Linked DNA regions of Homo sapiens. The protein of the gene in region 2 binds, or shares a complex with, the protein of the main gene of each other region. Each region holds a gene or a part of one and is shown on either strand. Other genes may lie near its edges. The genes, in order: KCNAB2 and KCNA3. A codon is read from its position in the direction of its gene.

What was found.
Region 1: the proteins of KCNA3 (region 2) and KCNAB2 are in contact, whole or in part, in a cryo-EM structure (PDB 7EJ2), measured with the Homo sapiens proteins. Residues at the interface, in NP_002223.3 of Homo sapiens: Pro133 (codon at 2,449), Met137 (codon at 2,437), Phe140 (codon at 2,428), Pro142 (codon at 2,422), Leu143 (codon at 2,419), Asn145 (codon at 2,413), Tyr147 (codon at 2,407); in NP_001186789.1 of Homo sapiens: Met196, Tyr199, Ser200, Arg203, Glu231, His234, Lys235, Ile236.

What each region holds. Positions count from the first base shown.
Region 1 is NC_000001.11:6,043,416-6,059,910, reverse strand, and holds the start of KCNAB2 (voltage-gated potassium channel subunit beta-2), read right to left. Parts: upstream 14,024-16,495; 5' UTR 13,728-14,023; intron 8,401-13,727; 5' UTR 8,375-8,400; coding exon 8,157-8,374; intron 1-8,156.
Region 2 is NC_000001.11:110,671,965-110,679,230, forward strand, and holds KCNA3 (potassium voltage-gated channel subfamily A member 3), read right to left. Parts: upstream 2,977-7,266; 5' UTR 2,846-2,976; coding exon 1,118-2,845; 3' UTR 501-1,117; downstream 1-500.

The DNA.
Region 1 (16,495 bases), about 100 Mb from region 2:
CAGGTGATGCTAGGACAAGGCCTCCTGCAGGCCATGTGTGTGCTTCCCGGGAACCGGCTTTGCACGGTCTGCAAAGCCAGTTCCTCCTCCTTCCTCTTGCTCACCAGGACCTCATGGCCCCACTCACTTCCAACTCTAGGAGCCCAGAAAGGGGAGAGAGGCCCGCGGCTGTGAGATGGCCGGCTCTGCTCTGAGTTGCTGCTGTTTCCCATGCAACTCTCCAGCCCCAAGCGAGCACCTCTCTTTCTCTTCCTCCTTCTGTCCTCAGAAGCACCCTTTGAGACGTAACAAGACCAACAACAATGACCACGGCGCCAGCACATGGGTGGTGCTCCCTCTCCTTGCTTGTCCGAAGAGCCTCCAGGGGAAGATGCCCCAAACCTCCAGGAAGGGGCCTGGGGATCGGTAGTGTAACAGGTGTGGCTGGGCACAGTGGCTCATGCCTATAATCTCAGCACTTTGGGAGGCCAAGGTGGGTGGATCGCTTGAGCCCAGGGGTTCCCAGCTAGCCTGGGGAACCTAGTGAGACTCATCTCTACAAAAAGCACAAAAATTAGCCAGGTGTGGTGGTGCGCACCTGTGGTCCCAGCTACTAGGGAGGCTGAGGCTGGAGGATTACTTGAGCCCAGGAGGCTGAGGCTGCAGTGAGCTATGATTGCACCACTGCACTCCAGCCTGGGCGACAGAGCAAGGCGCTGTCTCAACACAAAAAACAACAAAAAACAGGAAAAACAGGTATGGCCCGTGATTCCTGTGGCCAGGTCAGCTCCAGAAACACCTAGCACATCATCAGTCGGTTACAAGGCAACCACCCAGTGCAGGAGTCTGGGTCTCTCTGCCTTTCCTCCCACCTCTCCTGCAGCAGCCCTGTGGGGGAGGGAAGGGCTGTTCTGTCCCTTTAGGGAAGCTGGGGCTGGAGAGGCTGGGGCTGCAGACGGATGCTGTTTCCAGGCCTGGGATGACCATGACCACCGAGGCTCCAATGTGGTGCCCGCTGCCAGCAGAAGCCCTCCCAGCCCCGACCCAAGCCCCACACAGCTGCCAGCCGTGGTCCTGGGCAGGCCCTCAAGGAGAGCACTGGGCCTGCCAGCTGGCTTTCTCCCAGCCCCTGCGTCTGGCCCGGCAGCTCTTCCGGAATGACTGGCTGCTCGCCTCCCTCCCTCCTCCTGTTCCTTCCTGATGCCTCCGCCCCTTGTCTGCGCGGCACTGAACTACATCTCTAAGTGAGACTAGGTGCACGAGTGAGACCCCAAGATGGATAGACAGGGGACAGTCCAGGTGCCTGGACAGCGACTGCTGTGTGGGAAGGTCCCTTTTCCAGGGACGGGAAGGGCCTGCATTTCTCTCCCACAATGAGCCAAGCCTGGAGCTTTGAGTTATGTCACCTGGAGCTTATTTAGTCCTCAGGACAATTCTGCTGTAGTGACCCCGGTCTCCACTTTCCGGGTAAGGAAATCGAGTCATGGAGAGGCCAGGGGACTTGTCTGAGGTCACACAGGTAGCCGGTGGGAGCCCGGGTTCCTCCCAGGACACTCAGGGATGTCCCCGCAGGCTCAAGGTGTTGAGTCAATCCTTGGGGCCTGTGGCAGGTCGAAATGTGTCCCCAAAAGACAGTTGAGATCCTAATTCCTGATACCTGTGAGTGTGACTTTATTTGGAAACAAGGTCTTTGCAAATGTAATCAAGTTAAGATGCGATGGTCCTGGATTAGGGTCAGCCTTCAATCCAATGACTGGGTTTTTGTTTTTTGCTTTTTGTTTTTGAGGCAGGGTCTTGTTCTGTCACCCAGGCTGGAGTGCCAGTGGTTCGATCTCGGCTCACTGCAGACTCTGCCTCCTGGGCTCAGTGATCCTCACTTCAGCCTCAGGAATAGCTGGGATCATAGGCACTTGCCACCATGCCTGGCCATTTTTTGCATTTTTTGTAGAGACAGAGTTTTGCCACATTGCTCAGGCTGGTCTTGAACCCCTGGACTCAAGTGATCCACTTGCCTCAGCCTCCCAAGATGCTGGGATTATAAGCATGAGCCACTGTGCCTGGCCATGACTGGTGTTCTTATAAGGAGAGAGAGATTTGGAGACAGAGGCCCACAGAGAGAAAATGGCCATGGGACGGCAGAGGCAGAGGTTGGAGCGATGTGGCCACAAGCTGAGGAATGCCCAGGCCTGCCGGCACCACCAGAAACTGGGGGAGGCAAAAAGGACCCTCCCTGGGGCCTTCGGAGGAAGTATGGCCCGGCTGCACCTGGCCGTTGGACTTTCACCTCCCAGAACTGGGAAAGAAAAAGCTTCTGTTGTAAACCACCCAGCTTGTTACAGCAGCCTCAGGAAAGTAAAACAGGATCTTTCCCAAGATGGACCCCGTTCCTTGGGGACCCCTCTTTCCCAGGATGCACTTGGCCTTGTAGACAGGTTAACTTGCCATCCCCCCTGGTCTCTGCTGTTTTTCTCCTTCCCCTCCTCCTGCCCTCAGTGCCCTCCTTCCCGCCTGTCCTTTAAGACACACCTGGATTCCCAGCTCTTCCCAGCTGGAAGTGATGGCCTATGGTTAACTGAGCAACTACAGTCTGCTCAATGAACCTGGCAACCAACCAAGTACTTCCTGGTGAACCTGAGCTTGTGGTAAGAGCCTGGGATCTAGAGTCAGAAAGCACAGGAAATCAGGACTCCTGCCCTGCCAGGAGTTCATGACCAAGGGTCAGTGCCCAAGGACCGCAGAGGCTCCCTGCCATCCACATCTGGACTGCAGAGAGAGCCTCAGACCAGCTTCCAGTCAGTCCTGTCTTCCCACCATCTAGGATGCAGCCCGAACGAGACATGTGCTTTGGAAAGTAGATTAAGACCAAGACCACGCAGCGCCTTCCGACCTAAACTCACAGAGGCTGGGGGTGTTCCGGGTGCCAGGGACAGACAAAGCTCTGATCTCAAAGCAGTGCAGATGGGCAAAGAGCAAGGCAACCGAGATGGAGGAGGGGTGAGGAAGACACTCACTCAGGAGAGGGGCTTCTGATGACTTCATAGGTGCTTGTTTAGAGTGGGTGCTTGGGACAGTCTCTTTGGGGACCAAGCTTAGATGTGACAATGGGAAGGAACCAGGCCACGTCTGGGGAGGCAGCCTCCAGGAAGAGGGAACAGAAAGTGCGATGACCCTGTGGATGGAATGAGTTCCCCTTTGGGGATACAGAAGGAAGGGGCGGCGTCCAGAGCCTCCTGAGCGGGAGGGAGAGGGGTCCGAGTTGAAACCAAGGAGGCAGGCTAGGGCCACGTAGAGCCTTGCGGGGAGTTTGGGTTCACTCCCAGCACCATGGGGAGCAGAGGAAAACACAGCTGAACTGAGGGCTGGTGTCCAGTCAGCACAGTGTGGGCCCGGCCACAGCTTCTGGCCTGCCATTCTGAGGCCACATCTCTGAACCCTAACGTCCACAGGGGAGGGGAAGTGTGTGCTAGGCCAGCTGCCCTCACCCTGCTCCCTCATGCTTACACAGGGGCTGTGTGGATTTAAAAATTCATCTTAAAATTCTTTTTAACAGCAATAATTGAGGACAGTTTAAACAATGGGGAAGTGTAGGCCGGGCGCGGTGGCTCACGCCTGTAATCCCAGCACTTTGGGAGGCCGAGGCGAGTGGGTCACTTGAGGTCAGGAGTTTGAGATCAGCCTGGCCAACGTGGTGAAACCCCGTTTCTACTAAAAATACAAAAAATAGCCGGGCATGGTGGCTCGCGCCTGTAGTCCCAGCTACTCGGGAGGCTGAGGCAGGAGAATCGCTTGAACCCAGGAGGCAGAGGTTGCAGTGAGCTGAGATTGCACCACTGCACTCCAGCCTGGGTGACAGAGTGAGACTCTGTCTCAAAAAAAAACTGGGGAAGTGTAACAGGCATGCTGCCGTCCACCTCCATCAGCTACAGCTCAGTTCAGCTGATGAAATGCCCAGGCCAGGGGCACAGCTGGTTTCTTGCGGCACCGGGCAGTGCCTATCCCCAGGTATCATCTTTTCTATATTCATATTTAAGACCAAGTTTAATGGTGACCCAGCCCAGTCGCTGACGGAGAAGAGGTAAGCACAGAATAAATTTATCTGGGATCTTTAATAACTGGTGGTCTGAGTCACGGAGCATCCCACCCACCCCGTCAACCCTGGTGCAGCAAAATGAAATTCACCAGATAGAGTGAGGCCACCACCCTCCCCGCCCCACCTTCACCCTGACCTGGGTGTAACAACAACCTCTGGCCCATCAACTGCTAAAGGGACTTTGTTGGTGGGGTGAGATGGCTCATGCCTGTAATCCCAGCACTTTGGGATGCCAAGGTGGGCAGATCACCTGAGGTCAGGAGTTTGAGACCAGCGTGGTCAACATGACAAAACTCTGTCTCTACCAAAAATACAAAAATTAGTCAGGCATGGTGGTGCATCCCTGCAGTCCCAGCTACTTGGGAGGCTGAGGCAGGAGAATCGCTTGAACCTGGGAGGCAGAGGTTGTAGTGAGCCGAGACTGTGCCACTGCACTGTAGCCTGGGCGATACAGCGAAACTCCAACTCAAAAAAAAAAAAAAAAAAAAGCGTTTGTCTTCTGGTCTCCTCCACTCCCTGAGAAGCGAGATCCCCAAGGGCGTTTCAGCCCCACAGTGGGACCTGCAGTGTCTCCGAGGCTGCTCAGGCATTTTCCTCGGGGCTTCAGGCAAATAAAAGATATGTTCTCTCCACCTGTGTTAGTTCCCTGCGGCTGCCATTACAAAGATCCCCAAATTAGAGGACTTACAACAACAGGAATGTCTTCTCTCCCACTTCTGGAGTCTGAAGTCCAGGTGTGGGCAGTGTTCCCTCCAAACACCCTCATGAGGTGTCCTTTCCTGTCCCTTCCAGCATCTCGTGGCTCCTGTTGGGGCAGGAGACCAGGGTCTGGAGGCAGGGAACTGAAGGCCAATTCCCGCTGATTTCCTATAACTAAGTCAAAAGGAAAACCCCAACTTTCCACGCCCAAGTAACAAAAGAACCAGAGGCTACTCTCTTTGCATGGCGCCCCCTTTTCTGTGTGGCAGACGAAAAATGGAAAATACCTCTGATTTGTCCCCTCCCGCAACCAATCAGGCTGGCTGTGGGCCAAGTCTTCATTTGCATAGAAGTGTAACTTTGTAACTTCATTTCAGCCTCTAATTGGTCACTTTCTGCAACCAATCAGAATGATCACAGGCCACTACTTCATTTACATAAGATGTACACCAGGTAACCAATGGGAAACCTCTAGAAGGTATTTAAACCCCAGAAAATTCTGTATCCAGGTTCTTGAGCCGCTTGCCCACTCCCATCCTGTGGAGTGTACTTTTGTTCCATCTTGGCTCACTGCAACCTCCGCCTCCCAGGTTCAAGTGATTCTCCTGCCTCAGCCTCCCGAATAGCTGGGACTACAGGTGCCCGCCACCACGACTGGTTAATTTTTGTATTTTTAGTAGAGACAGGCTTTTGCCATGTTGCCCAGGCTGCTCTCGAACTCCTGGCCTCATGTAACCCACCCGTCTTGGCCTCCCAAACTGTTGGGATTACAGGCGTGAGCCACCTCACCCGGCTGCTTTTGTTGCTTCATTCTTTCCTTGCTTTGTATGTGCGTTTTGTCCAATTCTTTGTTCAAGATGCCAGGAACCTGGCTGCACACCCTCCACCGGTAACACCGAGACTCCTCAGAGTCCCTTGGGTTGTGGACCCGTCACTCCACTCTCTATCACCACATGGCCTTCTTATAAGGACACCAGTCGTAGGAATTAGGGTCCATTCTAGTCTTGTATGGCCCCATTGCCCCATCTTAATGATATCTGCAATGACCCTATTTCCAAATAATGTCACATTCTTCTTCTTCTTCTTTTTTTTTTTTTTTTAAGACAGGGTCTCACTCTGCCGCCCAGGCTGGAGTGCAGTGGCACAAATAGGGCTCACTGCAGCGTTGAAATCCTGGGTTCAAGTGATCCTCCTGCATCAGCCGCCTGTGTAGCTGGGACCACAGGCATGTGTCACCATGCCTGGCTAATTTTTTGATTGTATTTAGAGATGGGGTTTCGCCATGTTACCCAGGCTGCCTCCTAAAGTGCTGAGACTACGGGCGTGAGCCACCACACCCAGCCTAACGTCATATTCTGAGGTTTAGGATGAATGTGAATTTTGGGGGGTCTTGATTTAACCCACTAAACTATCCTCCATCACAAATCCTGTCCACATAGGAGAGAGCTGAGGTTTCCCTGAGTTTGGAGGATGGGGTCTGGCCCCTCCTGCATCATCGCCTTGTGTCCTCCACCTTCCTCCCTCCAGCCTAGCCGCCTGGGCCTTCTCTTCGCTCCTCCAGCTGAGAGAGGCATCCATTCCAGACCCCTCTCCTCTTGGGCTGGAATGTTCTCCACATCTTCAGATGATCCCTCTCTCAGAGGGTTCCCCCTCGGCCTCCCTGGTCTTTCTTCATTGCATTGTCCTGCTTTGCTGCCTCGGCCAGTGGTCGCTGTTGGAACTTGTCTCCGTGCAAGCTCGCTGCTTCTCTGCCCCCCACACCCCCAGGCCATGGCTGCCGTGAGGTTGGGGACCTGGTTGCTCTTGTTCATGCAGCAGCTCCAGGATCTGGCTCAGCGCCTGGTGCCAAGCAGACTCTCAATAAACATTTACTGAATAAACAAAAGGAATCAATGACCAGCCCCTCATGAATGCCCAGCGTCTCCTTCTTGAGAAATTTCCAGCAGAACAAGGAGGTCAGCTGTGGCCAAACTAGCGGACCCTTTGTCCTTCCTTTACAGCTGGATTTAGGATACAAAGCCTGAAAAACACTGCCATCTAATGGACTCACAGGAGAAGTGTTTTGTTTCTAAATTACAACCACATATTCAAACAATGGGCTGAAGGACCAAACACGCCGTCCACAGGAGAAAACGTTAAAGGAGCGGTCCTGGCCTGCACTCCACTCTGCACAGAGCACGCAGATGATCCCTAGGGTCTGTCTCAGACGGAAGCCAGATATTTAGTGTTGCCAGATAAAACACAGGACGCCCAGTTAAATTTGAAGTTCAGATAAACAATGAGGAACTTTTTAGTATAAGTATGACCCAAATATTGCATGGAACGTATTTATGCTAAAAAGTTACGCGTTTATCTGAACTTCAAATTTAACTGGCAACTCTACAAGGACTGGGTGGGGAGGGTCCTCTTTGGCTGAATGGCTCTCACAAGGGCATGTTCCTGAGAGGCACAGAAGATAAAGCTGTCAATTTGCAATTGAGAGGGATTTACACCAGCCAGAGAACGGTGGCTAGCAGAGCGCTGTCCGAGGTGCTGAATTCAAAGACAAGCGCACTAAAAAGAATGTCCTTTGGAGGTTCCAAGAAAATTCAGACCTACGTGCCTATCATTAAGAGCAGGGGTCTCCAACACCCAGAAACACATTTTTCCCCATGGAGAAACACACCCACACATTTTTACCCCATGGAGAATTTACTAAACTTTTTTTTTTTTTTTGCGCAATGGAGTCTCGCTCTGTCACCCAGCCTGGAGTGCAGTGGTGCGATCACGGCTCACTGCAGCATCAGATTCTTTGGGCTCAGGTAATCCTCCCACCTCAGCCTCCCAAGTAGCTGGGACTACAGGTGCATGGCACCATGCCTACCTAATTTCTTTGTATTTTGGGGTAGAGATGGGGTTTTGCCATGTTGCCTAGGCTGGTCTCAGACTTCTGGGCTCAAGCAATCCACCCACCTCGGCCTCCCAAAGTGCTGGTATTACAGGCATGAGCCACCGTGCCTGGCCTCATTTTCTTCCTTTATACATTTTTGTTGTTGTTGTTGAGACAGTGTCTCACTCTTGTCGCCCAGGCTGGAGTGCAGTGGTATGATCTTGGATCACTGCAATCTCTGCCTCCTGAGTTCAAGCAATTCTTCTGCCTCAGCCTCCTGAGTAGTTGGGACTACAGGTGCGCCCCACTATGCCTGGCTATTTTTTGTATTTTTAGTAGGTGGTGTTTCACCAGGTTGGCCAGGCTGGTCTCGAGCTCCTGATCTCAGGTGATCCACCCGCCTCTGCCTCCCCAAGTGCTGGGATTACAGGTGTGAACCACCGTGCCCAGCCCTTTTATACATATTTATATGGCTGAAATCAGACTTCCCACCCCACCGCCCCCCTGCCCGGCCCTTACCGATACTTCATGCCTGTGCGCTGGGCGGTGCAGCCGTCCAGGGAAAGGCCGTGCATGCGGAGGAAGCTCTCCATGTTCCTGGCCTGGGCAGCCGCCCGCACCTCCCGCAGCCGCTGCAGTTCCAGCGTGTCCGTCTGGCGGACGGGGTGCAGGGCCCATTCAGAGTGGCACCTGCTGCTCACGCTCCGCAGACTCTCGCTGTACGTCATGGACAGCATGGTGCCGCCTGGCTTGGGAGCTGCCACTGTCCAGACGGTGATGAGTTAGACAGTGTGCCAATGCCCCACGTGCCCCAGGCTGGATGGCTGGCCCTGGGGCAGGGGGCAGCTGCAGCGAAACATCCTTTAACTAGTGCCACCACCAGGTCTTGGTGTCTAGGAGTGGGACCCGGCCCCTGGATGTAAACACCTCTTGGCATGAGATTCTCAGTCCGCAAAGCAGTGCTTGCCAGGAACTCTGGCTAAGCTGCCCTTTTCTGTCCCCTGCATCTGTGAGACAAGCACAGGCAAAGCTGCATTCCAGGCAGGACAGCTGCACCCCAAGTGTCCAAATGAAAACGGGAGCACAGAGAGCATGCAGAGCCTGAGCCCCCCAAATGCTGAAGACCAGGGTTGCTGTTCCGTGGTGACTGCGGTACCATGTCATGGTGGTCTCTTGAGGTGGTTCCCAGGGTAAAACTGGGTCAAAAGCTGTCCCTGGGAAAGCAGCGCAGGGCACACCTGTTGCTGAAGTAAACTCTCCTGTAATTATGCCAGGGAGGCACCTCACCCCCGCATGCCAGGTGGCCCCAACATGGGAAGGTCCTATTTGCTCTTAGCCTTGTAAAGGGAAATGCTATCTATACAACACATTCCCTGCTTGTTGAACGCATCATTGCACCGCAGAGATCTTTGGGCTTCATGCTTTTTGCAAAAGAAAAACTGAGCAGAATGCATTTAAGCAGGTTGCGGAGGAGAGTGGCCTGGGGAAATAGGCTTAGTTGGGACAGGGGAGTTTCAAAGTTTCTATGTGAAGAACCACTGAAATATAGCTGAAATGATGAATGCACATTCTTGGAAACTAAAAGCAATGTAAATGTCCATCAGTAGGGAAACTGGTTACCTAAGTGACAGTCCATCCACATAGTGGGAATTTGTGCTGCTGTCAAGAATGAGGCATCTCAACATAGTGAGTGAGTGAGCCCTGAGAGATAGTGGACAATTAAAAGGCCAAGGGAGAAAGCGTGTGTCCAGAACGCAACCACTGGTGTTAATTCATGTGCACAACAGTGAGTGGACCAGTGAGGGCAGCCTCGGGGCTGAGTCCTCACCCTGCAGAGTCTGTGACAGCGCAATGAGGACATGGAGGCAGGCTCAACACAAAGGAGGTCCCCAGTCCAGTGACCCTCACCCCACCTGACTGCAGCCTCGGCCATGGCCCAGGTGGCCTGCACTGCAGCTCTGCATCATCACCAGAGAGAGAAGGTGCAGAGGGGAAGTCACCATTTCAGCTGGGTCAGCTGCACAGTGGGATCCTGGAACCTGGCCTGGGAGCTGGAAAGGAACCAGCACTGTCCCCACCTTCTGCCCCAAGAGAGGAAAAGTTCGATTATCCCTGGGAAGGAGCTGGGAGGGCTATCCTGGGAGCTGAGGCAGCTACAGAGGCTTTAGCACGGTCCTTGAAGGGGGTTGAGATGTCCTGGAGTTGCCCCAGGCTGGGCCTTTCCTGGGGTGAGCTCCAGGGGCCAAAGGAAAGACCCACAAGGGGCAGGAGTTTGTGATGAGCCCCATGTGCTGGGGTCCTTCCAGAATGGGTGACCAGCCTGCTGACCTTTCACTGCTCTGCCTATATGTGCACCCAGAGAGGGGGGCCACCTCCAGGAGCCCCACAGCTGCCTCTTTCATGGGGGTTTCCCTGCAAGTATTCGTCTGTATCTTATTTGCAGGGACCTTCATTCATGTCTGCCCTGTTGTGCCCAGCATGAGGCCTAGCTCAGAGCAGAGCCTACAAATGCCTGTTGCATGAACATGCAATTGAGGTAGGGAAGGTGGGCTCAGAGAAGAGCTAAAGAGAGACCAGCAGGCAAGGAGCCCCCGAGGAGCCCCTACAGGGAGCTGGGTAGCAGTGTCCACACAGGCCTTGGCCCCACCACCCTGGTCAGGGCTGGATGGCCCCCTCCCTAAAGGCGAGCAACCAGTCGTCCTTGGGGAGCCTGCTGTGCTGTCTGCACCTCTGCACCTCTGTCTGATGGGCATGGCTCCCGGGGGTGGGGGGGCTGCGTTTCCCATCCTACCCTCTGTCCCACACAAACCACACCATGTGCCTCTTTCCTGCTGTGATCTGTCTCCATGGCGCTCGCCATCATCCACCTTGCTGATTCCTTTCTAGCTGTCCTGTGTGCTGAATTCACTCCCCTGAAGGTTGAGTCCAGGAGGGCAGGGACCCTTCTGCCTCCTGCCACTGCCACTGCCCCCTGCTCAGTGCCCATGGGAGTGCCCCTCGTGTACAGAGGAGGGACTCAGATACTTGTAGAACAGCAACCAAGGCCCAGGCTCCAAAAGGCCAACCAGGGCTATACCTGGGCATTTCCTGGCAGTGCCAGGCAGCTGTTGGTGGGGGCGGGGCTGGCTTCCTGCCTCAGGCCCAGTGGCTCTTTGCAGGTCGTCCTCTCTTGCTGGGGGGTTCCCATGCCAGGAGTTGCATTCACCACTGCTCATTTCTATGCTGGGAGGGGTGGTGGCTGCTGGACCTCTGGACGCTAAAGCAGGCGGGTACCCTGGCATGGAAAGCCGTCTGCCTTCCAGGAGAATCGCTCTGGAGGGCAGAGAGGCCCGGACTCCAGGAGAGGTTCACCTTAGGAAATGAGGCCCTTGGCACCCACAGACAGCAGCACCAGCTTCCCTTCCCTGCCTACTGGCCGGCCACTCCCTTCCCTCCATGCGCGTGGCAGGCAGCTGCTTCTGAGGTGGCCATGTGGCTAGCTGCCAGTCCGGTGTGGGGCAAATGGGGGCCAACCCTCACTTCCCTGAGGTCTGTGTTTAGAAAGAAGGCCAGCTGGGCAGGCTGTAGCCCCAGGGCTCTTTCTGAAAGGCAGGACCAGCCTCAGACACGCAAGTTCCCTGCCTGGCCCGACCAGGCTGAGATCAATAGCCATTAGCTTTCAAGACATTACTCACAAAAAGCAATCCGGGTCTGGTTTGGCTCTAGAAATATAGCCAAGGCCCCGGGGCTGGAGGACGGGGTGGCTGAGTGCCCAGCTTCTGGACAGGGGCAGCTCTGCTTGTCACCTGCTCATGGTGTGGCCCAGGCAGGCACCTTGACCGCTCCCGGCCTCAGCCTCCACATCTGTGAGGTAGGCTGGGCAGAGGCCTGTTGTACCAGGCTGCTGTGGGCTGCATGAGATGAGGCTTTGGACAACTGGGTGGGAGTTGGTGACGCAGCCAGAAGACAGTCTGTTGGGGGGCGTGGGATAAGACACCAATTATGATAAATGCTGTGGAAAGAAAAATCCACCACCAGGGGCCAGCAGGCAGGGCGGGAAGGAACTTGTGACCACAGGTTTGAGTGAGAGGAGTGAGCCACACAGACACCAAATCTCCCTAGAAAATGCTTAAGGGAAGAGAACACAGATGTGAATAATCGCCCCCTTCACAACAAGATGGTGGAAGGCTGAGTTTGGGGATGTGAGTGGGAGAGGGGAGAGAGGGCAGGACAGAATGGGTTTTGTGGCCAGGATTTAGAGGGCGTCCCTCCCTGTGGGGGCCCGCTTGCAATCTTTCCTTAGAGCTCATGTTGCAGCCCTGGGAGCAGACCTGCAGGTGGGAGCCCTGCGGCACGGAGGGAGCCCAGAGCCTCTTGCTACGAGCTTGTCCCCATGGTGCCAGGGCAGGGCTTGGGCCAGGGAACTTGCGGGCACAGAAATGGCAGCCTTTGGCATGGGGTGGTGGGGTGAGGAGCAGGGCTGGTGCCATGAGGAGCCCATGGCCGCTGGACTCCCCTGAAGGTTGGGTCCAGGAGGGCAAGGACTCTTCTGCCTGCTGCCACTGCCCCCTGACCAGTGCCCACGGGAGTGTCCCGTGCACAGAGGAGGGGCTCAGATATTTGTAGAACAGTAACCAAGGCCCAGGCTCCAAAAGGCCAACCAGGGCTATACCTGGGCATTTCCTGGCAGTGCCAGGCAGCTGTTGGTGGGGGCGGGGCTGGCTTCCTACCTCAGACCCAGCAGCTCTTTGCAGGTCACCCTCTCTTGTGTGGGGGGGACTCCCATGCCAGGACTCTGTACAGCGGGGGCTCCCTGTGGTCCTGAAGGCTCATGACTCTGGGAGGGCTGCCCCAGGGGAAGAAGGATAGGTACAGGCAGAAGGCAAAGAGGCTCTGCCCGTTACCAGCGGTGCCTGGGGACAGAGGACACCTCTGGACTCCCTCACACTGGGGCTCTATTCTGGGCTTTTGCCGAGACTCTAGCAGCGTCAGGTCCTTGGACGAAGGGCCCCCCGGTAAGACACTGCAGGGAGGAGAGAGTGGCCCCACTGCCGGGCTCCTGCCTCAGGGTCCCCACTTCTCCTGTGCTCAAGAGCACAGTGACCCCTGACTTCCAATTCAAAATATCCCAAATCCCGGCCGCTTTCCAGAGTGAGGGTCTCTGAGCCCTGACACTCCCTCACCACCCTGGTACCAAGAAAAACGAGCCCCTCCTCAATAGCCATTGCTAATTACGTGGAACCCACAAGTTCTTTCCTGGGCTGGGCCTGCCTGGTGCAAATCTATTCCTGTAGATCAGGGGCCCAGGGGAATTCACGTGAATTAACACCGTGACATGGAAAAATGCAAGGAAGATGTTAACCTCATTAAGTCAGTAGGAATCACTACCTCACCCCAGACTCCTCTACCTGGAATTTCTGAATTGTTCTGTTTACTGAAAGCCAACAAAGCATACAACCTGAGATTGAGAAGGAACCCTGAGCATCTCTTCTGAATGGTGACACCTGTCCAGAGAGCAGAGAGCCCAGCCAGAGTTCTCCAAAGCGGAAATGGAAGGGGAGCTGCTACCATTCCGGGGTGCGGCTCTACAAGACACGGCATTGCTTCAGTGCAAACACAGAATGATTTTCGCTCAAGGACAATCAGCAAACTGAGGCCCAAACAAGCAGCCCCTGGCTCCCTCAGCACGTGCTTCCTGCACAGACATTTCAGACAAGACCAAACCTCCCTGACAGCGCTCTGGGCAAAACTGGAAAATGCTGAATCTTAATCAATGGTGAACACAGCGAGGTACGAGCTAGACGCCCGTGTCTCCGGCAGATGGGAAAACAGTCAGCCTTGGGCAGGTCTGGGCTGTGAGCAGACTCAAGCGAGAGGTGCTGCCCGGCTGAAACCTGCCGCCCACCACCCCATCCATCACGGTCATTCCAAGTTTACCTCAGGCTGGCTCTTTTTTAAGGTCTTCTGCTTTGCAAAAACACGGAGGGTCTAATTCCGGATCAGACAAAACCACCCCAAAATATGGTCTCCTCTGTTATTTTTCATTCCCGCGGATGCGTGCCCCCAAGCGGCATCTCCACTAGGAAGGTAGCGGCTGAAGGGAGGACTCACCTGCCTTCGTGGGGGCGTCTGCTCGTTAAAAAGGCCACAGTCTGGTTTATTAGGGATCACCAGACACTCTAAGGATCTGGCACAGCGGCTTTTTCATTAGGGAGTGTCACTGCAGGACGTCAGAAGCAATTGGTGAATGAGATGAGTCCCACCAGAGTCGAGTTTTGAGGCAGCGAGTCCATTAGTTCTATTAGGGCGTTTTCATCTCAGTGAAAGAGGCTGAATTATTCACGAGTGCCTCTTCCCCTAAAAGCTCGGGAAGTGCAGTTCCGTGCTGCAACCTGGCAAGGCTGACTCCCGGTGCGTGGGGTTGGGGTGCAGCCCAAGGTGAGGGGGAGGTCCTGCCCGTCCCTCAGGCCTACCCTTGCTGCCTCCACCATCCCCGCGTGCCAGAAACACAAACCTTTGGACCCACAGGTCGAAAGGGGCAGGCCTTGCTCTTTGGTATCTGAGTGCGGGACACAGAGCCTGTGGCTTCCGCATACCACTCAACTCTGAACTGTGTCTGCAGCAGGGGAGCTGGGGGCCCCGTCGTATGGGGCCACCACCCACAGCCAAGGGGGTCTGGAGAGGCCTCTGCTCAGCACACGCGCATGCTCCTCCTGTCCTCTGGGGATACACCCGAGATGGGTATATCTGATACTACCGGTAGCTATAAATGGCAGGAAGGCCCCAGAACCTGCTATTTGGACTCCACACTGCCACTCACTCCAGGCAGGGACACAGGAGCCCTTCTCCACGGCACATGTCCTGACCTGGGGTTTGGGAAATGCTTTGAGACTAGGCCAAACAAGGCTGAGCTCTGGGATGAGGCTAAGTGCTGAGCCCCAACCCCAGGGTCATGACCCCCAGGGTCACTGCGTGTCACAGGATGCCAGCAAAGTCCCAGCGTGACATCATCTTCCGGCTGAGAAAGCGCGCCAGTGAATGTGGGATTTTGAATGGAGGCAGAACCGTCCCCCCATGATGAATGAGCAAACAGTGGTAGCTGCCATGGGGGAAGGTGGGGGACAGGAAATCAGTGCCCCAGTCGCAGTGTGGAAGGTAAATGAAGTGGGAGGCTGGGAGAGCACGTAGAGTCTGGAGGTGCCTGGCTGCGGGTGACTAGCTGCGAAGGCCTTGGCAATTGAAATGGTTTGTCCCCAAAGGCCCAAGCCCACTCTGTCAGATCCCCACATGTCGCCCTGGTCGGGGGGCCTGCGCCTCACTACTGGGTGGTAGCTGCAGCCTAACATGCTCCGAATGAGGCCCTCTCCTTCCCTGGGTCCACTGCTCCTCTCTGTCCCTTTCTGTCTCAGCACCTGCCCATCAGTGGCCAAGCCCTGTGGACGTGGCTTCTGACGTCCTTTTTTCAGGCCCTGCACCCCTTCATTCTCTCTCTGTGCAGTTCCTGGAGCTCAGCCGTCCTGCACCTTTCCTGGGCACTGTCTGGTCTCCTTGCATTAGCCTCTCTCTTCCCTGTCTTACTCCCTGCTACCAGGCTTCCTTCCTAGAGCAGATCTCTGACCCCTGCCCTGCTCAAACACCATAGATGGCTCCCCAGTGCCCTCTGAGTGCATCTGTGCCCCATCGCTAGGCATTCGAGGCCCCCCACCAACATCCACCTCTACAGCCAGCCTCTCTTTATTCTCCATCATGTCCCTGATGGCCCAGGCTGGGTAACTGTCACTTCCTGTTCTCTGTGCACACCTCTGAGCTGTGGCTCAGGCTGTTGTATCTACTGGAATATGCTTCCCAGCCTCTGCGTTGAATCCTGCCCAGCCTTCAAGGACCAGATCCAAGCCCCTGCTGCCTTCTCCGTGAAGTCTTCTTGGCTCTCAGCTGGCTGTGGCCCCTCCTTCCTTGGACCCCAAATGCTCTTTGGGCTTCTCCTGTGACGTGCTCTGCCTTCTGGAGATCATCAGGGCTATTTGAGACCTGGGGTACATGGAAGTATTGCTCCCAATCCTTCACCCCTCTCTGTACCCATGCCCTTTGCCATGTGACTTTATAGCTCCTCCCACTGGTGGGGGCAATATATTTCCAGCCCCTTGACTGTGGGCTGGTTCCTGAGACTTACTTTGGCCAAAAGCACGTGAGCAGAGGTGACAGCGCTCTGACCCCAACCATAGGCCGTAAGAGACCCTGCATGTTTCTGCTTTTCCTCTGGTACTTTTGCCATGGGAAGGACATGCCTGGGGTAGGCCCCAGTTAAGCATGGGAAGATGGAGGACATGGGGATCCAACTTGCAGCTTGGAGACAAACCCAGCCAAGCCAGCTTAGACGAGCTGCCTGGTCAACCCGCAGACACGGGAGCAAGGAAGAGATGCTGATTGCTGCGTGGCACTGAGTTTTGGAGTTGTTTGTTATGCAGCACTTGGTGGACAGCTGATTGGCACAGTGTCCTATGCCAATTCCTTGCCTGGGAGCTGCATGGGGGCAGGGCACATGCCTTGAACGCCTCTGCCCTGTGAGAGGGCCAGGCCTAAGTAACTGAAAGAACCATCCAATAGCCATGTTTAGTGGTATGCTTGGTGTGATGAGGGTGCCCTACTAGGAGTGGCCCCCAGCCTGTTAACAAACAAAGACCCTAGCCCTTAGAGGTCATCTCCAGAGCCCCCACAAGAGACACCCAAGTGACCCCCTGGAGATCCAACGGGTAGGATGGCCAGAGCCTGTGGGCACCAGAATTGGGGCTGAGAGCCTAGAGGGTAAGCTTCAGAGCTTCCCTTGGGGCCAGGAAGGCCACCTGGAAATGAAGGTTCTTAAGCACAGGGATCCCGGCGGG
Region 2 (7,266 bases):
TCATAGTTAAAAAATGCATTTGGGATTCATTTCACCTCCTTAGAGTCTCAGACTTAACTTTATTTTTTGTGCGGCTTATTCAAACAGTGGTTTTCCTTATGAAATCATTTAAGTAGGAACCATCTGGAAAGGTTACTGTGGAAACGGCAGGGGCTGGGAGGTGGGGCTAGAGAGCAAGAGATGCCATGACAACCTTTTTCGGGTTTCCCAGGAAACATGGGTTGCTATGGAAACTGCATCAGTCAGGTCCGAATTAGTAACTTCCGCTGGAAGGGGTGTCTGCCACTTTAATCTTCTTGTGATACTGCCGAAGCTTATCTCTCAGATGCATTAGGAAATTTTTTGTTTCTCTCAGCAACACTGAAAACATCTGTTTCTAGACTTTGATAGTTGTTGGGGCTGGGACATATGCACAGAACTTCACAGGAATCTGTTAGTCTAATGCTTTAGAAATGCTTAGCAAGCCCGAAAGAATTAAACTAATTAGTCAGATCAGGACATCTTGGGCATTTCCCTTTATTCAAAGTTGTAGAGACACTTAAAATTCCGGGAAAGGGGATTCAAATAGGAATTTAAGTCAAAAACCAAATAACTCATGGTGGGTTTACAAGTCATTATTCTAGTTAGACTCTTCATCCACATATCTACAGGGTAGGCAACCGAAATACATATTCAATAAATAACGTTGAAAGGTCCATCAAACCGAAGCATCATTTACTACGAATTGATGTGCTTAGGAAAGAAACAACTGCCTTTAAAATTCTGAGGTTAAACAGTTACTCTAACTGTTCTTTAGTTTCATTTCCTCCCAGGATGTACTGCTCTTTTTTAAATAGGGCGTGTACTAGAAATGAAGTTTAACGTAAGTCTGTTGTTTACAATGTTAAGAGAGAGAGGGTAAGAGGGAAAAGGAGAGCTGAGAGAATGCAGCCCACTTGCAAAACAGGCACCTGTTTCAGTATGAAGCAGCAGGGAGAGGGAGAATGAAGTGTGCTTTCCACTTCTTCAGGTCCTTTCCTTGATGAATGGTCTGGAAATGTATAAAACAAGGGCATAGGCAGACCAAGGGGGCACGTTCCACACAATACTGAGCACAGCATGTCACTTGTATCACATATTAAACATCGGTGAATATCTTTTTGATGTTGACACAAGAGTTGGGATTATTGTTCGTGGTGCAGGTGGCAGTGGAATTGCCCGTTTTGAAAGGGGTCTGGGGGAAAGCGCTATGGTTCATACCCCCCTCTTCGATCACCATATACTCCGACTTACTCAGAGTCGAGTTACTCCTTGCTTTTCGGAGCTCCTCGGCTGAAGAGGAGAGGTGCTGGCAACTTCCCACGTGCATGTACTGGGATTGCTCTTCCCCTTCTGTCTCCCGGTGGTAGAAGTAATTGAAGTTGGAAACAATCACGGGAACTGGCAATGCGATGGTCAAGACACCGGCGATGGCACAGAGAGATCCCACAATCTTGCCCCCTATGGTCACTGGGTGCATATCGCCGTAACCCACTGTTGTCATGGTTACCACTGCCCACCAGAAGGCATCCGGGATGCTGCTGAAACCTGAAGTGGGGTCGTCTGCCTCGGCAAAGTAGACCGCGCTGGAGAAAAGGATGACCCCAATAAAGAGGAAGAAGATGAGCAATCCCAGCTCCCGCATGGACGCCTTCAGCGTTTGCCCGAGGATCTGCAGCCCCTTGGAGTGGCGCGACAGCTTGAAGATGCGGAAGACCCTTACCAGGCGGATGACCCTCAGGATGGCCAGAGACATGGCCTGCTGTCCATTGCCCTGTCGTTCGGCCAGCTCGGTACCCAGAGTGATAAAATAAGGAATGATGGCCACAATGTCGATCAGGTTCATGATGTTTCGCGAGAAGGTGGCTTTGCTAGGACAAGCGAAGAACCGCACCAGCAGTTCGAAGGAGAACCAGATGATGCACAGCGTCTCCACCACGAAGAAGGGATCGGAGAAGCTGGAGGCTCCTGCGCGGGACCCCGACGTGCTGTTGCCGGCTGCTTCGAATGAGTCCTGCGACGTCGAGGCGGGGTAGTCCTTCTCGTCGCGGAACTCCGGCAGCGTCTCCAGGCAGAAGATGACAATGGAGATGAGGATGACCAGCACGGACACGATGGCGATGCCCCGGGCCGGCCCGGAGCTCTCGGGGTACTCGAAGAGCAGCCACACCTGGCGCTGGAAGTCGCGGCGGGGCAAGGGCCGCTCCTCCTCCCGCAGGAAGCCCTCGTCCTCGCGGAACTTCTCCATGGCCTCCTCGCCCAGCTGGTAGAAGCGGATCTCCTCGGAGAAAATGTCGATGGGCACGTTGACCGGCCGGCGGATGCGGCCCCCGGACTGATAGTAGTAGAGGATGGCGTCGAAGCTGGGCCGGTTGCGGTCGAAGAAGTACTCGTTGCGGAGCGGGTCGAAGTACCTCATGCGCCGCTTGGGGTCGCCCAGCAGCGTCTCGGGGAACTGGCAAAGGGTCTTCAGCTGCGTCTCGAAGCGCAGCCCGGAGATGTTGATGACCACGCGCTCCCCGCAGCAGTCCTGCTCGCCCGCGGCCGGCAGTGAGGGCGGCAGCGGCTCGTAGCGGTCGCAGCCGCCGCCGCCACAGCCGCCTTGAGGCGGGGCCCCTCCACCATCGGCCACCTCCGGCTCCAGCAGGTGGTCCCCGGGCACCACGGTCATGTCGGGCGGCAGCTCGCGGCCTGCGGCGGGCTCCGCGTAGCCGTGGTTCACCAGCGTGTGGGCACCGCCGCTGCTCGCTGGGCGCTGAGGAGGGTGGGCGCGGTGGCGGGCTGAGGGCGGCGGCGGCGAGCGCAGAAGGCTGAGGCGCTCGTCCATGCGGCGGGGAAGAGGCGGCAGCGGTGAGGCCAGGTCGCTCCTCCTCGCGCTCCCCGCCCTTTCGCCGCCTCCGCCCCCGAGCCGAGCCCACCGCCTGTTGCAGCCAAAGCCGCGATGCTCTGTCTGGGTCTGGCGCGGTCAGCCGGGCTCCCGCACGGGGACGCCTCCTCCCTCCTTCTCGCGCTCTCCGCCCCCTCCCCTGCGGGGCGCGCGCCCGCCTCCGCGTCCCCTTAGGATTCCCGCCCACCGCGCGGGCGCGCGTCCCGCTCTCGGGGGCAGCCGCCGGGCCTGCATTTCTTGCAGCCCTCAAGGCCCCTCGGTGTCAGCGAAAGAGCCCTCATGTTGTACCTCGGCGCCCCGCGGGAATGCCCACCCAGCAGAGCCGGCCCACGGGGAGTCAGGCTGCCGGCCCGGGCCCCTAGGCTCCGCCCGCTTCTGGTCAGCGCCCCTCGCCCCCGGCCCGCCTGGCCGCGTCCCAGTCGCCAGGGTTTTCGGCCCGTGGGCCGGGAGAGCTCCCGCCGCGGCCCCGCGGGCGCCGGCCCCCTGGCCTCCACACCCCTAGGTACAGCCCGGGGAGGGCAGGCGGGCCCAGTGTCCAGGGAGGGAGTGCAGGCCAGGCGGGCGCCCTGGGCCAGAGGCAAGCCTGGCGCCGGCATCCCAGGTTCCCTTGAGGGTCGAGGACCGCCAAACCCTGGGGAGGAGCGGGGGTTTAAACAATTTAGCTTCTGCTAGGATGCGAAGCCAAAGGGAGTAATGGGTGCTGATGGGCTTCGCAAACGGAGTCCGAAGGAAATGGATTGTTAAAGGCGTTCGGGCCCTGCTGCTTTAGTGAATAGTTCACACCCGTTTTCGCAGCGGAGATGTCGGCCACTGGGAAGAATCAAGGACCAAGTTTCTGATTGGGATTAGCAGTGACAGCCTGGTCTTTATCCACTACACAGGTTTCCTGTTGGCGGGGAAATAAGAGGAAAAATGGGAAAGGAAATTCACGAAGTCGAAGTTGTGTGGTTAGAAAGTCCAGCTTTATGACTCAAGCCTGTCGTGGAAGGGATGAGAGCAGGACCTGTACCTAGACTTTTTACTTAATATTTTGGCACTGCCCTTGTGGTAGGGAATTTGCAGCGCTCTAGTTGTTAAACTGGAAGGACATTCATTCTGCAACTTGTACCTCTTGCTTGATCTGGGCCCAGAGATAACTTACATGTATCTTCTTTAAACTTATTTTTCCAAATTATTGTGGTTACTTTGAACACAATTTGTTTCCAGAAATTTTAGCAATCTAATATAACTCAACCCTAGGCTTTAAAAAGTCTGTTTTTTATTGTATCATTCAAATCATTTACAGAAGAGGAACTATTGTCTAGACAGCTCCTCACCCACCCAAAGTTAGCTGACAATTCAATTTTAAGTAAGTGATTTGTGGTCAATACTTCCCACCACCACTCCCAACCATGGGGTTCTCTAGGGCACAGAGTAGGTCCTAGCCAACTTATATTTCTAGCAACTACCAAAGTGCCTTGTAAATGGTGGAGACTTGGTACATACTTGTCAGATTGAATTCCCCAAGGAGTGTCTCTTTGCGTTGCTATCTGCTCTGGAGTTTCAACATTTCTTCTTTTTGAGCCCAAGATGCTGCTGTGATTCCTAGGATGAGGAGTGAGGAAAAACTGAGCTCACCATAGAAAACACTGCTCATTTATTCCATAGGATTTCCACCTCCGGCTCTCCTGGGCACAACAGGCACCCATGTCCTTTTATTGTCCCTTCATCTTCCGTTTCACCTCCTGGTCAGTGCCAGACAATGCAGGCAGTCACTTATGTTGTGGAATGGCAAAACTGGGCAACCACGTAAAACTCTTTCTCTTACAAAACTCCAGAACACTGGAATGTGACAGCCACCTCATTATTTTGCGTATATATTTTGAGCTGGTGATTAGAGTAGCAGTATAATCAATCATTCATATATTTAAATCTTAGAATGAGACAGACTGCTTGCTGCAATGATAGCTCATGGAAAGGCAAAGACCCTATTTTTAAAGACCAGATGTTTCATGTACTTCTATGTCTGACTTAGAAAATGATTTATTCCTTCTTTTGCAGGAATTAGTACTGAAATTAATATTAATCAATGGCAAGGAAGACCAGAGCAGAGGATAGTCCTGTGACAAATGGTCACAAGCTTCTCCCAGCTGTGAAATGTCTTTCCTTCATAAGTGACTATTTCCATTCCCTTTCATGTATTTGCCTTGTCTGGAAGACTTTGATTATGTGCTTCTTAGGACACATATAAAGTCCTTACTTTGTATTTGGGGCCCAGAGAAGTTTAGCAATTTGCTTAAGCTCACATAGCTAGTTAGCAGCAGAGCTGGGCCTAAAATCTTGGACCATTTCCAAATCCAGTGTTTGCTTTACTGTATCACACTGTGCAACGCTTGTGTTGATCACTGTGAGTACTTAATATACTAGATTTCTAACAGCAGCCTATTTGCTTCTGATTGCCGACTAGTTCACTTCAATTCATATTTATCTTAACTGAAAACCACTCCTTCTGACGGCTCGTCTGTTGTCTATAGAAAATGAGTTGGTGGGCTCATTCTAGCCCTGTTGGACAGCCGAACCCATCACAACAAATCAATGCCAAAAATGGCATTTCAAGAGGAAAACATAGCATTTATTTAGTACCCCCAACAGAGTAGCTCAAAGTGATTTGAAAATGTCTCATTAATCCTCATAACACCCCTGTGGGATAATAATAATATTATTATAACGTTTAGGCGTAGAACTGTGGCAAAGCCAACAGCTTCTCTGAGCATGTGCAGGATTTCCTCATATTTCAGTCTGCAATACTAGAGCCTGACTAAAACCGTCAGGTTTGCAAACAGCAAGGGTAAATAAATCTTGGTGTTTGGCCTTTCTGTGTTGCTCTAGGCATAGTTTGTGTTTCCTACTGACCACATCAATCCCAGAAATAGTTCACCAGTTGTTTGCCAGATGGTAAGCAGCATTTAGGATTAGCTCAGAAGTGTTTGAGAGTGGGACAAGGCAGGGCTAGAGGTCCTGATCCACAATTACAGATAAATGAATGGAGAAATAGCACCTAGTAACAGTGTAAAAGCGTTCCTATTTCTCCACATCCTCTCCAGCATCTGTTGTTTTCTGACTTTTTAATGATCGCCATTCTAACTGGCATGAGATGGTATCTCATTGTGGTTTTGATTTGCATTTCTCTAATGACCAGTGATGGTGAGCTTTTTTTCATGTTTGTTGGCTGCATAAATGTCTTCTTTTGAGAAGTGTCTGTTCATATCCTTCACCCGCTTTTTGATGGGATTGTTTTTTTCTTGTAAATTTGTTTAAGTTCCTTGTAGATTCTGGATATTAACCCTTTGTCAGATGGATAGATGGCAAAAATTTTCTCCCATTCTGTAGGTTGTCTGTTCACTCTGATGATAGTTTCTTTTGCTGTGCAGAAGCTCTTTAGTTTAATTAGGCCCCATTTGTCAATTTTGGCTTTTGTTCGCATTGCTTTTACTCATGCAGTCTTTGCCCATGCCTATGTCCTAAATGGTATTGCCTAGGTTTTCTTCTAGGGTTTTTATGGTTTTAGGTTTTACGTTTAAGTCTTTAATCCATCTTGAGTTAATTTTTGTATACTGTATAAGGAAGGGGTCCAGTTTCAGTTTTCTGCATATGGCTAGCCAGTTTTCCCATTTATTAAATAGGGGAGTCTTTCCTTATTGCTTGTTTTTGTAAGGTTTGTCAAAGATCAGATGGTTGTAGATGTGTGGTGTTATTTCTGAGGCCTCTGTTCTGTTCTGTTCCATTGGTCTATATATCTGTTTTGGTACCAGTACCATGCTCTTTTGGTTACTGTAGCCTTGTAGTATAGTTTGAGGTCAGGTAGTGTGATGCCTCCAGCTTTGTTCTTTTGCTTAGTATTGTCTTGGCTATATGGGCTCTTTTTTGGTTCCATATGAAATTTAAAGTAGTTTTTTATAATTCTGTGAAGAAAGTCAGGGGTAGCTTGATGGGGATAGCATTGAATCTATAAATTACTTTGGGCAGTATGGCCATTTTCACGATATTGATTCTTCCTATCCATGAGCATGGAATGCAAATTAGTTCAGCCATTGTGGACGACAGTGTGGCGATTCCTCAAGGATCTAGAACCAGAAATACCATTTGACCCAGCAATACCATTACAGGGTATATACCCAATGGATTATAAATCATTCTACTACAAAGACACATGCACATGTATGTTTATTGCAGCACTATTTACGATAGCAAAGATTTGGAACCAACCCAAATGCCCATCAATGATAGACTGGATAAAGAAAATGTGGCACATATACACCATGGAACACTATGCAGCCATAAAAAAGGATGAGTTCATGCCCTTTGCAGGGACATGGATGATG